2 separate regions of the Homo sapiens genome follow, and region 1 is linked to region 2. The links come from fine-mapping of genetic effects on gene expression. Tissue or cell type: whole blood. Region 2 holds a variant in brackets; the other region holds the start of a gene. All regions are shown on one strand. Distances are from middle to middle.

What was found. PIP is the estimated chance that this variant, and not a neighbour inherited with it, causes the effect.
Region 1: NLRX1 starts here. The variant in region 2 is fine-mapped to the expression of NLRX1 in whole blood (TOPMed, PIP 0.98).

The regions. Positions count from the first base shown.
Region 1 is chr11:119,167,331-119,170,074 of GRCh38, forward strand. NLRX1 (NLR family member X1) reads left to right here and starts at 1,395. Exons shown (of 10, transcript NM_001282144.2): 1 at 1,395-1,972. RefSeq lists a silencer at 1,304-1,913 and enhancers at 1,485-2,190, 2,191-2,744.
Region 2 is chr11:119,121,548-119,124,047 of GRCh38, forward strand. HINFP (histone H4 transcription factor) reads left to right here and starts at 33. Exons shown (of 10, transcript NM_198971.3): 1 at 33-92. RefSeq lists a silencer at 1-46. The variant G/A (reference allele first, on the strand shown) is at 1,544.

The sequences.
Region 1 (2,744 bases), 46 kb after region 2:
CACCACCCAGCCCGGCTAATTTTTGTATTTTTAGTAGAGATGAGGTTTCACCACGTTGCCTAGGTTGGTCGTGAACTTCTGAGCTCAGGCAATCCGCCTGCCTTGGCCTCCCAAAGTGCTAGGATTACAGGCATGAGCCACCATGCCTGGCCAATTTTTGTTATTTTTAGTAGAGACGGGGGTTTCACCATGTTGGCCATGGTGACGAGTTTGAGCTGGTCCCAAACTCCTGGCCTCAGGAGATCTGCCCTCACCCCCAGCCTTCCAAAGTGCTGAGATTACAGGTGTGAGCCACCGCGGCTGGTCCTCTGATTTATTTTTTCAGATCCAGTACAAATGTTACCTCCTCTGCACTCCCTTTTCCAGACTCTCCTAATGCCTTGCCTCTGCCACTGAAGTACATCATTTGTTTGTCTGTTTTTTATATTTTTATTTTCTATTTTCATTTTAAATAGAGACAGGGTCTCACTATGTCACCCAGGCTGGTCTCAAACTCCTGGTCTCAAGTGATCCTCCTGCCTCGGCCTTGAAGTACATCATTTGTAAATGTGGTAGTTGATTCCATTAAAGTGAGGTGCCTGCCTTGCTGTGGTTGGCAGCCCAGGGCCTAGTGCTGGACCTGGCTTGTGGGGGTGAGGTGCTCAGTGCTACCCAATACCACAGTACAACGAATGAACAAATGTCTAAATGAAACATCCACATTGTTTTCAGTAAGTCCTCTTCCCAGCCCTGCCCTGGAGAGCCTCTCTGTGGGTGCCCTAGTGCACAGCTCTGTTGTGTGAACATCGTACACTCATGCTTGCATACGAAGGCGTGCCCTGGCTGTGGGTGGTGGGTGGCTCCTCCTTCTGGGCTACGTGAGCCCAGGGTGTGGAAGTGTGTGGAAGTGTAGGGATAAGGGTGGGGGCTTTGGGAACTGGGAAGCCCCAGGGCTAGGCCATGAATGGGTGTCAGACCCGAAGAGCAGGTTGGGGTGCAAGTTGTCCTTCAGCCCCCATTCTTCCTTCTTTCTTAACCAAGGTTACCAGCAGCCACACACATAGGTCTGGGCTCTGAAGAGGACCGGATACATAAGGCAGAACCCAAGGAAGCCTTAGGCTCAGGTCTCTGCCTGAAGGTAGGCTGGGGAGGCGGAGAGGGACAGAGGGAAGAATCCCCTGGACACCGCGCCTCAGGGAGGCCCAGGGGTAAGGTAGGAAGACTCAGGCCCGGGATGTTGTTCTGGCTCATCCACTTCCTAACTGAATCAACCTGCACAAGTCATTTCACCCTTCTGAGCATCAGTTTCTTCATCTGTAAAATGGGCCTAACAAGCAGCCCAGCCTGGGAGGTGGTTAGTGAGGTCACTGGGTGTCACTGGCGCTTGGGAACCTGCAGAGGGCAGTACTAGCGGCAGTGCCCGCGGGGATGGAGGCAGGGAGGGGGGACGATGGCGGGACGGGTGGCGCCGGGGTTCCAGCCCTGCGCCTGCTCCGGAGCACCGGGCCCCTCTCGCTGACCCCCTCGTCCCAGGACCCCGCAGGCCCGAGTGCCTGGGCTCGTCCTCTTTCGCGCCCGCTGCCAGGTGCCAGGGCCGCGCAGGCGGGCGGAGGTGGGCAGGAAGCGCCACGCCGAGGAGCCGGGGACTCTGGGAGCTAGCGGGAGACGCCGGCGTCCGCCCAGCCGACCCCTCTGGGCCGCGGCCGACGGCTCCCGGAACTGGGCAGCCGCGGGTAAAGGCCTAGCGGGCTTGATAACCCCTGCGCCCTGGCTGGGAGGCCGCGCTGAGCGGGGGGCAGGGCGGGCCGGGGGAGGAGGCTGTGCAAGGGCCGCGGGGAGATCCCGGCCGAGAACGAGAGGGACGGAGCTGGGCGCTGAATGGCGGGCGTTCTGGCAAGTCTCCCCCTGCGTTCCCGAGGCCACCCGAAAGTAGGAGAGCTGTTTGGGACCCAGTTTGGTGGAGGAGCTCTGGACCTGTAGGAACACCGCCCCTGTACGTTTCCTGCAGTGCCCCCTCCTTTTCTCATTGCCCTGGAGACCTGGGTGATCACCGGAGAACTGCCCTCGGCCCCGCAAGTCCCGTCTTGACTCAGTGGCCCTAGATCCGAGGTTAAACCGGAACCTAGGCTTTCTCAGGCTTCTGGAGCCCTCTCTTAACCCTTCCGCAGCCCCTGGGACGGGCCAGCACCCAGCCAGCTCCTCCGCTGGTTGGCCCTGCTAAGGCAGGTGGCCCAATGCAGCCAGTTCTCCTTAAGCGTACCCTGCCCAAGAAGCCCCGATCTCAGTGGAGGAGACCAGGTGCCAAATAGGGGCACATTCCATTTAAGTGAGTTCAGAGGCCTCAGAAAAGACTTCCCAGGGACGGAGACTTTTGAGCAGGATCTTAAAAGATTGGTTGGGGCCCGAGTGGTGGCTCGCGCCTGCAGTCCCCGCACTTTGGGAGGGCAAGGCGGGCGGATCACTTGAGCCCAGGAGTTCGAGACCACCCTGGGCAACAATGGTGAAAACCCCGTCTCTACAAAAACCAAAGCCAAAAATTAGCCAGGTGTGGTGGCACACCACTTTAGTCCTAGCTACTCAGGAGGCTGAAGCAGGAGGATGGCTTGAGCCCAGGAGGTAGAGGTTGCTGTGAGCTGAGATCGTACTACTGCACTCCAGCCTGGGCAACAGAGCGAGAGACCCTGTCTCAGGAAAAAAAAAAAAAAAAAAAAAAAAAAAAAAAAAATTGGTTGGGACTCTAACAGAGGAAAAAGGTCATTCCAAAC
Region 2 (2,500 bases):
GACGATTGGCTTTCCTTGACCGTCCCTCAAGCGCCTCTCCGGAGATGGTCTGAGGTGGGAGAAGAGCTGAAGAGACCTGGAGCCGACAGACGGTAAGCTGGGGTATGTGCTCTGCAGGGGCTGCAGGAGGCCAAGCTCTTCCCGAGCCACCTCGGCGAGTATTCTTGCCGCTTGGCCACGCTGGTCTGCCCTGGTCCGGTCCCCTCACCCCGACTGGAACCTCCCTGCTTTCTAGTCTAGGGGCTTCGCTGCGGCTGAGACTCGGTCGCCGCCACGCCTTAGCGTGAAGGATTCCGGGAAGCCTGCGGGACTGCGAGTGGAGAGGTTTTGCCCAACGGGACGGTCTCCTTCCTTCTGTCCAAATTCTACCTGTCCTTCGAGGCGTGGTGCGGGCCCCACTGCTTAGGGGAGACTTCCTTTTCGCCTGACCGCGGAGGTGTCTCTCTGTCCTGGTCTCCCTCATCGGGTACTTTGTTTCGGTCGTTGTCTTCACGTATCAGTCTTATCTTTTTGGCCAAATTATGAGTTCTTAGGCGTTTAGGACCCTTTTTTTCTTGAATACCACAGTTCATTCATTGTCTTGCGTTACAGTATATGCCCTCTTAAGTGTTAAGAGGGTAGAGTGAAGATCATGCCCCTATCTCCTCAGAGTAGAAACAAGAGACACAGAAAGAGAAATTAAAGAAGACAGGAGGACAGTCAGAGAGCGTCAGGGAGTTTTGCCTAGGTTTCAGATCATTCTGTATCGCCAGCTAGCTTGCCTCCTTGGACTTACCCACCAGTCTAACAGCAGGTGTATGTTTAGAATATTTGTGCTCGGCACAGTGTAGGGACACGGGCAGGTGTGATATGGTTTCTGCTCAGAAGCTTCTTATAGTCCAATTGGGTAAACGAGACTAGAACACATAAAACGACCATGGCAACATGAAAATAGGGTTGAAGTTTTATGGTGTCAGCTGTGCCAGCCATAGAACTAAGGAGCAAGAGTAGATTCAGGGATGGGGTAGTTTAGGAAGGCTTCCCGGAATGTGATTATCTCCTGATATTTATTGAGTACCTGGGGTGTGCAAAGCTCTGTGCTGAATCTGAGAATGAGAAGTGAATAAGTGATGGCCACTGTCCTGAGAAACTCCTAGTCTAGGGGAAACAAGTTTCATTGCATTGATAGCAAAGATGTGTGTGGATGCCGTGGGCAAGAGATGGGATATGCCAGCTGTACCTGGATGAATTGGGAAGGGGGTCATCAAAGAGAAGACTTTGGGGTTTGAAAGGCGAATAGAAGTTGCATAGGTAGGCCTGTCGCGGTGGCTCACACCTGTAATCCCAGCACTTTGTGAGGCCGAGGCGGGCGGATCACTTGAGGTCAGGAGTTTGGGACCAGCCTGACCAACATGGCAAGACCTCGTCTCTACTAATACTACAAAAATTAGCTGGGCGTGGTGGTGCGTGCTTATAGTCCCAGCTATAATACTTCGGAGGCTAAGTCACGAGAATCGCTTGAACCTGGGAGGCGGAGGTTGCAGTGAGCCCAGATCACAGCACT[G/A]CACTCCAGCCTGGGCGACAGAGCAAGACTCCATCTCCAAAAAAAAAAAAAAAAAAAAAAAGAACTTGCGTAGGCAGAGAGTTTTAGGAGAATGTAGAGTATTCAGAGACAAAGATGATTGAATCAGAGGAAGAGGGAATGAAGTATGGGTGAGGAAGCCAGAGAACAGCATCATGTGGGAGAAAGAGCATGATCTTTGGATTGGAATGAGGGTGCTCTTACATCAGATGAAGTGTAGAGAGGACTCACCACAGGGCTGACACACTGTAGCTTCTCAATAGATGTTCGTTTCCCTACCTAGAACTGGAGAAGTAAAATTGAGACCACTTTGAGAAGAGCCTTGCATTTCATACTGTAATAGTCAGAGGAGGTGTGGGATTTTATGACTTTTGAAGCTTTTTTCTACTTTTCTTACCACAACATTATAAAAGCAGTCAATATTCAATATTTCTTTCTTCTTTTTTTTTTTTTTGACAGGGTCTGGGTCTGCCGCCCAGGATGGAGTACAATGGTGTGATCTTGGCTCTTTGCAACCTCTGCCTCCTGGGCTCAAGCCTTCCTCCCACCTGAACCTCCCAAGTAGCGGGACTGCAGGTGCATGCTACCACATCGGCTGTTTTTTTTTTTTTTTTTTTTTTTTTGAGATTGAATCTTGCTCTGTCACTAGGCTGGAGTGCAATGGTGCGATCTCGGCTCACTGCAACCTCTGTCTCCCGGGTTCAAGTGATTCCCCTGCCTCAGCCTCCATAGTAGCTGGGACTACAGGCGTGTGCCACCATACCTAGCTAATTTTTTGTATTTGGCCAGGATGGTCTCAATCTCCTGACCTTGTGATCCCCTCGCCTCGGCCTCCCAAAGTGCTGGGATTACAGGCATAAGCCACTGCGCCCGGCTGATTTTTGTATTTTTAGTAGAGACGGAATTTTGCCATGTTGCCCAGGCTGGTCACAAACTCCT